Regions from separate parts of the Homo sapiens genome. Here all the other regions are reported to be linked to region 3. Evidence: microRNA targets listed by miRTarBase, many of them from high-throughput screens and not tested one by one. Region 3 holds a microRNA gene; each other region holds the end of a gene's coding sequence.
The links. Region 3 holds the annotated microRNA hsa-miR-383-3p (ACAGCACUGCCUGGUCAGA, at 1,335-1,353, opposite strand). A microRNA usually pairs through its seed, bases 2 to 8, with sites in the 3' UTR of a target mRNA and lowers its output. Matches are read on the target gene's strand: a 7mer-m8 pairs with bases 2 to 8, a 7mer-A1 pairs with bases 2 to 7 and ends in A, and an 8mer does both.

Region 1 (3,000 bases), not on the chromosome of region 3:
GAAGTCTTTACACTTTGGGCTAAGTGAAGATTTCTCTTAGGATAGAACATCTTAGTGAAGATATGACAAAAGCATAATCTATGAAAGAACAAACTGATTAAACTAGACTTCATCAAACTGAAGTCAAGCGAAATGAAGTAACGTTTACACAAAAACCTGTACGCAAATGTTTATAGCAGTTTACTAATAATCTCCCAAACCTGGAAACAACCCAGAAGTTCCTTAACTGGGGAATGGATAAACAAGCTCTGGTACAGCCACACAATGGAATACCACCTGGCAATAAAAAAGAACCTGCAACATCATACATGAATCTCAAATGCATCATGCTAAGTGAAATAAGCCAGACTCAAAGGCAACATATTGTATGATTCCATTTATATGACACTGTCAAAAAGGCAACTATAGAAACAGAAGAGATCATCCTGCCAGGGGCTGGAAGAAGGGTTGAGTATAAAGGGGTACAAATGATTAGAGAAGATAAAGAAACTGTTGTATGTATTAACCGTGGTAAATAAACAGTATGTGTTTGTCAAAATTTGAACTATACATTTTAAAAACAGTAACTTACTCTATGTAAATTATACCTTAACAAAGATGAAAAAAATAAAATCCACATAGATGGATTCAGTCCACAAAGGTGTTTACTGAAACACTATAGCAATAATCCAAATGTCAACAGGGGTGGCAGTTAAGTAAGTAGGATGTCCACAATGGAATATTTATGCTCACTAAACCCATTTTCTTCCCCCAAATGTGGGTGACATTAAACAATGCCCGTGCTATTTATCTGGGGAATAAAACCATATACAAATGGTTACACGCACACACACAAACGCACGTGTGTCCCCATGCAGGGGTGTTTCTCCACGCAGGGGTGTGTGTTTACCCACAGGGGGAAGTCGGCCTGCTGCCTTCTCCCACTCTGTCTCCAGGTCCTTCTGCCCCACTTCAGTCTGAGCCCTTCAGATGAGCACTGCCCACCCATCTGTACATGCTGGCCAAGGGGAGAAATTCTGCATGCAACACCAGACGACGAGGTGGTAGGTGACGCTGGGTGATAGGGATTTGTGTGCAGGATTTTAAAACAGGATTATAAAGCTGCATGAAACTAGAAAACAGTGGGCAAACAGACCAAGCCAGCACTTTATTTTAAAAAGTTTTATTTTGGAGATTTAGAAATTTGAGATTTTTAATAACGGCAAAAGAAATTCAGTCACACCTAATGATTAACAGAATGTAGTGGTGTATTATCTAAACAGAAATCGTGCTGATGTGCCATAATAAATTGTCTATTAGTAAAAAAATACACTTTAGGGCACAGCATTGTATCACAAATTACAGTAGGGATACTTTGCAAGAATTTAATCAAACTAGAGAATTCTGAGTAACTGTATCTTTTAAATGCAGCACTTAAAAATGTAACAACTCTGTGCATCCTTTTTCTTAAAAAAAATGACCTTGCATGTGTCATAGAAACGCTGCTTTATTGCTGCAGAGGTCAAAGTTCAAGGCTCAAGAGGTACAGGAGAGAATACAAAGGTAGCCTTTAGAAACGTGGTCTTGTTTATGTATAAAAAAGGTAAAGTTTATAAAAGTTAATTTACAAACCAAGAACAAAAGTGGTATGCACGCATTATGTACAAGCATCCTTAAAACATCAAAATTTTCAAATGCATAGCCAGAAAGAACAGAAAACCACCACTGCCCCTTGTCAAAAAAAAAAAAAAAGAAAAGAAAAGAAAAGAAAAAAATATCCCCAAATCACACCACTATTTTCTTCTGGGTGATAACACATTTCTGAAACCACCAAATGCACAACGTACTCAGTCTTTGTCATGATACAGTATCTAGATAATGCACAAAAGCCATAAAAACTTAGTAACACAAGGAGAATGAGCTAAGAATTAAGAACATGAGGGTAAGGCATTTCTGCTGGTTAGTATGTCTGTGGTAATATGGTGAAGTTAGAGATCTGAAGAGGCCATGGAACCAGTCTCACATGCTTTTGTATCCTTCCCTAAGAAAAATGTGTTTTCATGTACAGTAAGTCATTGTCTTCACTTCACCCTCCCCCAGTTGTAAATCTCCTTGCTGTACATTTCTGTTAAATCCACAACACTGGTTATATATTCCAGGTGCATTTAAAAAATGTGTGCATATTACTTCATGCATAATAAAATAAAATGTGTACGTATGCTAGGCCAGGGCCATAGTAAAGTTTGAAACAGTGTACTTTGGAAAGAACAGACCTCAAATGCACCCCCATTTACTGGCTGGTATTTTAACGGAAATCAATATGTGAAGTTAAGCAGTGACGATAAAAAAATTACAAAAATCACAAAGCAAAATATCTTTGAACCTCTAGCCAATACCAACAGTCCCGTCAATCACAAACATGCAGTGTGTAGCATGTTTTCCGACCATGGTTCAGGGGCATGCTCACTCATCTTTATCAGTTCAAACAAATGCCTCATACTAACAAACTGTAGTATCAACTCTAAAAAAGGTATAATACTTGATAGAGTGGTTCCATTTAGATTAAGTTTAATCCAGTTTCACATTATTTAAGTTCCTATATTTCAAGAGTTAAAAGTGGTCAATAAGGACAGAAACACAGTTTGCTCCAACGAGATAATTTGGATCTCCGGGAAGACACTTGTTTTGCCAGGTTTTAGGATCACCTATGAGAGAAAAGAAGTTGATGTCATTTACAGTTCAGTAAACTGCTATCCGTAATGCTTTGCAATTATAGGGCAAATACGTATATTTAGACATAATTTTCTTCTGTTTCTTCAGCATATTGAATTTGTATCAAAACACATTGCTGTATTTCAAAGCAGATCTGCTGGCATCTAACAATTCCAAAGGTGTTTCACACTTCTAAAAAAATTTTTTTTAAAACGTTCTTTCTAACTCACACCATTAAGAACAGTTTTTTGTTTTTTGTTTTTAATTTTCAGACTTCTCCTTTATTACATTATCAAGTGCATTGGCCTT
Region 2 (3,000 bases), not on the chromosome of region 3:
GGAGCTGGGAAGACAGCCCCACTGGCCACTGGGTGTGCAAGCTCCAGCTTCTCCCTCACTCCTGTACCAAAGCTGGGGCAGTAGAGGGCCGGCACAGGGCAGATATGAGGGCTACCCTATAAGGTGGGCTACCCTGTAAGGCAGGCTGCCAAGAGTCTGGTTGGGTTGCTTCTCTCCACGTTGGCTTGGCCCAAGATAAGAGTGAGATCTGGACCAGTTCAGATGCCTTATGCTCCCCAATGCCCCAAATACAGGCCATGGCTCCTTGTGAAGCCTATAGACTGGGCCCCCTCTATTCTTTTGACCTACATGTTTCTGAGCCAATCTGGCCCCCAAAAGCCCTGCATGCCCCCTTTACTTCTTCCTTCCTCTGACAGGTGGATCTGTCTCTGGCTTGGCCATGCCAGGCATGTGGCTTTTGCTTTCTTCTCTCCTTCCAAGCACCAGAAAGTGCCCTCCAGAATGGGGTACTAAGCTGTAGACAGAGCAAAGGCAAGCTTGTGGAGGATGTCAACATGGGGAAGGCTCGAGCAACCAGGCAACCTGTGCCATGCCACAGAAACGAGGAGGAGGAGAAGGCCTACACAGTCACACCCCTATGACATTCCGGAGCTAGTCTTCAGCTGAGGCACAGATCCTCTGCTGGCAGCAACTCCAAGTTCTGGTGGAGGACAGACCAGGCCCCCAGGGGCTCCTCCCACAATCCCCTTCCAACTTCTCCTTTTGTAAAGAGGCCAAGGGGCACTGAGGCCTTGTGTATTTCCTCATCAGCTATTCCTACATGTAGCAGTTTGACGGTGGGCAGGGCCAATCCAGCCATTCAAGGAGCACCTTCCCTGGAGGGCCACCCTAAGGTGAGAGGCACTAAGAAAAGTTTGGCCCTGCCTTCAAAGAGGGCCAAAAACAAAGCTTACGCATCAAAAGGAGCTCAGGAGAGTAAGAGCACTTGGTGCCCTCCCCTCCTGCTCCCCAAGCCCTGGGGATTGATAGCCTCAATGCCCGCAGGCCTCTGCAGAAGGACGGTCCCTCCCAGGGTTGCTTCCTATAGGTCCACTTGCTAAAATTATGACCACTGAGGCACCGAAGCTCAGTGTAGGTCAAACACGGTCAAACTGGAAATACTGGAACTGGTCTAGGTCAACTGTGTTGCCTAGAGTGGGACAGGGGAAGGGAGGCTCATCAGACAAAATCACCAAATGAGCTTTTCTGTTCTTAAGCAAATCTGTTCCTAGTGGGAGTCAATGTGGAGTCAGCAATGCCCAGCCACTTCCTGCCTGCTTGAGGTCCGTGCATAACTGAGCTGAAGTCCTTCAACAAAAGCTCCTCCTTGTGGAGCACCTGAACCTCCACCCATGAGGACTTAATTCTTTGGCAGCCCCCTTTCAACCTAGACATGGGATTTGGGGGTAGACAGGATGAGGAGGACGTGATGTCCCCCACATTAAACAATTCAGCACTGAGTGTGGATACACTGAAGAAATCTGGCCCTAGGGAAACAACACTGGCCCTGTAAAACCAAGAAACAGATCTACAGAATCTTCCAGAAATGGGCCCTGATGCGAGGATTCTCCAAACTCAAAAACCAACCAACCAGCCAATTCCAGCTCATTCTTCCCTGAAGCTGCCTGAGAGAGGGAAAGAGGGAGGGAGGGGGGAGGGGGAGGGGTGGGGGGAGAGGGAAAGGGAGAGGGAACACATTTAAGGGGCACTCAAGATTAAAATGGTATCTATTATCAACATTTTCCTAAAACAGAGTGTATGATTCAAATCACAGTTTTCTGTGCTCACTTCTGATTGGGATATGCATCAGTTCTCAACTCTCACAGGCAGAACTTACACAGGGTCTGGCCTAGTACTGTATATATCTTGACCCTCTTCACTTTGGATTTGTCATTGCAATAGATCTCCAACCCTCTCAATGGAATCTAGCCCTTGGGCTGGGTGGTGCTCTCACCTCCCACCCCAGGCAGCATCCTGGAGGGAGTGGCTGGTTGGCTGTTTACTTTGAGTCATGGGACACCAGTGACCAGAATCTGGCTGGTTCTGTCTTGACCACGAGCTGTGAAATCCCTCGGCTCTGGGCTTGCCGCTGGTATAGAAACAAGGCCTCAGTCCCCCGTGGTAAGGGCTGTGCTGGAGACTAAATGGGACGCCAGCATAAGCCTGGAGGTCCCTGGCAGTGGAGAAATGAAACACAACCCAATCTCATTGCTTCGATGCCAAAAGAACTACTACTTGTTGTTCCCTTTCTCCTCAACCAGCTGTTGTTAAAGCACCGACAAGCAGAGTGAAAGAGCCGCTCACTGCAATCTCCCCATGTAAGGCCACTAGGAGCAGAGAGAGAGCCAAAGGGAAGGAGGAAAATCCAGCGCCCAGCACTACACCCCAGGCTCAAGGAGACATCGTAGGGGGAAGAGCTGGGAAAGGAAGAGTGGTAGAAGAAAGGGACAGAAAGGAGGAAAAAGAAATACACCAAACATCCTACTGCCCTCTCCCATGATTTTATCAAGAACTGGGTGTTCTCCAAGTCAAGTCACGACTTGCTTCCTCAGGGAGGAAAAAAAAAAAAAATAAGCACCTTCAGTCTATTTTCTTGGCTGGAAGCCGGAGCAAATCCAGCAGATATTTACACAAGGGCCCAGCCATGTATGAGAACAGGATGACCAGCTTCCCGTGGGTCATGGTCATGAGAGTCTGGTGTCCCGAGGCCCAGATGCGATACCAGGGGCCGTAGAATGGGTCTGAGATGGCCGGACACAGCATGTTGTTCAAATTCACTTCGGTGACCTGCAGGGACAAGGGAGGTAGAGTGAGCGTTCACCATCCTTAGGCTTTCTCTGGCTTCTGCCAGTTCAGCCATCTCTACCTAATGGGGGACTAGACAAGGAGGGATTGACCAATCCCCACCTGTTTATAAAGGGATTTCTTCTCTCCCCTCGGTTTTCTGAGTGAGTCAAGCTAGAGGCCTCTGGAGGTGATGGCGGAGGGCCGTCTAGTGGA
Region 3 (3,000 bases):
TTATTATTTTTTTAAAGAGGCAATGCTTTAAGACTTCTCCTGCCAAGTCAGCTCCAGAAATAAAATCACAAAATCTCAAGCGCAATATTTTTTCAGTGATACAAAATAATTTCTGTAAATATTTGGAGCATGTACTATATTGCCTTATGTTCAAGTCCAAGAACCATCTGAAAGGTAGAAATAGTTCATCAAGGTAAAATGTATTCTACAGTCATAATACTTTGTAAATAATTTATAGGACAAAAAATATTCAAAGATATCTCAGTTGATATATGGCTACAGAATATTCTTATGCTTCTAAATATTAAGGAAATAGTAAACTGTAACTCAAGAAAGGAAGCTGTACTTATTATATGTGATTGAGTAAAAGTCTAATCAAAATCAAAAATTAATTCAACAAAAGTTGCCATCGAGTACACACCAGCCCAAAGTAACAAACACCCTACCAACAATTGCCTGAAAATATTCTAGAATTAATTTTCACCTCAGTTGAACAATTTATTGACTTTTTTCCCTGCACGCCAGATGCCTATAGTCTCCCCTACAAACATCTTGTCTTTTCCATTTTTGTTCATATTTAGTTTTTGGCAACCACAGCTTGTATAATTACATTATGTTGGAGCAGGACCATATTAAGGAAACATTGCAAAGTACAAAAAATTTTCTTTGGCTCACCTCCCATCTGTAGTGTTTCATGGAGTAATAGCCTTTCTCTGCATCAAAGTCTTTCCTGGATTCCTGTGGTATTGTTCCCAGAATCTCCTCGTCTAAACTCTCCTGAAGCGTTAGCTCCTAAACACATATGTTACTATTTCTATGGGGCTTTTCCTTTACTAGGAATGGAAAACACTGTTGAGATGATCAGATATATACTGCTGATGAGGCAGCCACACTTACCAGCCAGAGGCCAGCTCTGCTTCTGAGGATACATAGAAAGTATATTCCAATAGCGGCCTTTGCATGTGTGCATTATAGCAGCATTCATATTTGAAGAAAGTCAAATTAAAGCATGCATATAAAACTTGTACTATTTGCAGTTTGAAGATTTTGCCCATGAATTTCAAATGTCTGCATGGAATCCCAAGTTATTTTCTCTTTATGGTATAAAAATGTTAAAGAGTGGGGAAGAGGAGGTAATGATCAAAATGCTCATGTGAGGAAACAACTAGGTATTTTATGAGAAAGACAAGCTTCCAAACACAGGTTAAACATGGCACTTTTCATCTCACCTGAAGCATGCTGGCCACTCCAGTCCACCAAATGCAGTTCCCTTGGGACCTACGCTGGATGGATACCCAAGGTCTCATGAGGTAAAGGCTAGGACACTTGCTCTTTCTGACCAGGCAGTGCTGTGGCTGATTAATATCCACCCAAAGCCACAATCACCTTCTGATCTGAGGAGCAGGTGACGGGGAGATTCTGAAGTCTCTTGATAAATTATGCAAACATAATCAAACAATACACATTGCAGGTTAAAAAAAAATTCAGTCACTGAAGTGGTTTGCTTTGTCCTTTAAAGAACTGAATCTAAATAGATTGTCATCAATCATTGGCAGTTCCTAGAATGACAACGCTGAGAAATTAGTATTACATGGGTACCATAGAAGAGCTATTTTCTTTCCTAGTGAAACGCTTGGGAAAGGAGAGAGGAAGGGAGAAAAATAAACAAGGCTTTTCTAACTACTGTTGGAATTTTCCTTTCTCTGTTCTTTCTTCAGATGAACCAGAAGACCAATTTAGTCCCAATATCCAATGCTTTCACATGACTACAGCTTATCCTAAGCCTTCCTTCCTCCTTGCCAATACAAAATACACACCTTTCAAGGATCTTTCAAGGCCTATATCAAAGGTCGAAATTTGCCTACTCCTAAGTCATTCATTTTGTAACGACATCAGTTTCTATGTGATTATATTATATATATATATATATATATATATATATATATATCCTTTTGTATATATATTCTAATTTTATATACTCTGTCTAAAGCTACAATATCTCCTTGCACAGAGTCACAAAATGTAAATTGAAATACATTATTGTTATTAGTTTGATTTTTGTGTTACCTCATCTTCACTATTTAGTAATCATCTTAAATGCAGTAACTTTTGACTTGTAAATGTTGGGCTTTTGACACAGAGTTGGTGTTAACAACATTATATGCAAAATGACTCACTTTACTATTTCATTCGCAATTCACAAAACAAAAAGTTAATTTGTATTCATTGAATAAGATAATACATAGACATATCAAAAATATATAATTTGTAGTTTATTTAGACTCAACATTGTTCCACAACATATCTAAAGCAGAAAGAAAAGATAAAAATATACACATTTATTTTTACAATAAATACTGTCAATAAGTTATCAACTAAATATTAAGGCACTTCTTAGATTAATAAAATTAATAAATTTCACATTGTGTAATATTGTTTTCATAATAGGAAGCCAGTGGTTTTCATTATTTTTCAATAGTCATCGTAGATATGATTATTGCAAATATAAGATATTTTGAATACATACAGTAATATAGTTTGGTGTTAAACAGTAGAGAGAAGAAGGATTTACTGGTCCTTCTGATTTCTTTTTTCACTTTTGTTGGATTATTTCAGGAATACCAGCAGGAATTAGTTTGCTATTATCATTTTATTTTCATAGAGAGGAAAGGAGAGAGTAGGTCAATTGGGATCAGTCTCCCAGGGCATATAAACCCGGCAGAGAGTGGCCCTCTTTAATCTCTGCTACCCTAGACATCAAAGGCTGCACTGCCACTATTCACAGAGATATGTCAGCATGTCCACAGGGGCCTGAACAATCATGCAGAGGTCCATGCTATGGCCTCTCTTGGGAAATCCCGCTCCCGACTTTATCTGGTATGCTCTCCCACCTCCCTCAAGATCTAACTTTGATGCAACTTCCTAGGCATCTCCATTATTTTATTTATTTATTTATTTATTTAGAGACGGAGTCTTGCTCTGTCACCCAACTGGAGTACA

Region 1: the mRNA of TJP1 is a reported target of hsa-miR-383-3p. Seed matches in the 3' UTR shown: 7mer-m8 at 1,408-1,414.
Region 2: the mRNA of TMEM164 is a reported target of hsa-miR-383-3p. Seed matches in the 3' UTR shown: 7mer-m8 at 2,374-2,380 and 8mer at 1,451-1,458.

Annotation. Positions count from the first base shown.
Region 1 is chr15:29,699,006-29,702,005 of GRCh38, forward strand. It overlaps TJP1 (tight junction protein 1), which reads right to left. Exons shown (of 28, transcript NM_001330239.4): 28 at 1,147-2,684. The coding sequence ends at 2,590. Among named protein-coding and RNA genes, the nearest start is that of LCIIAR, 26 kb to the left of the region's middle.
Region 2 is chrX:110,173,032-110,176,031 of GRCh38, reverse strand. TMEM164 (transmembrane protein 164) reads right to left here. Exons shown (of 7, transcript NM_032227.4): 7 at 1-2,787. The coding sequence ends at 2,581. It overlaps LOC124905230, which reads right to left and starts at 259. Exons shown (of 2, transcript XM_047442708.1): 1 at 215-259; 2 at 1-116. The coding sequence starts at 259.
Region 3 is chr8:14,852,109-14,855,108 of GRCh38, forward strand. It overlaps MIR383 (microRNA 383), which reads right to left and starts at 1,402; the gene lies at 1,330-1,402. The region is part of intron 1 of SGCZ (sarcoglycan zeta); the gene reads right to left.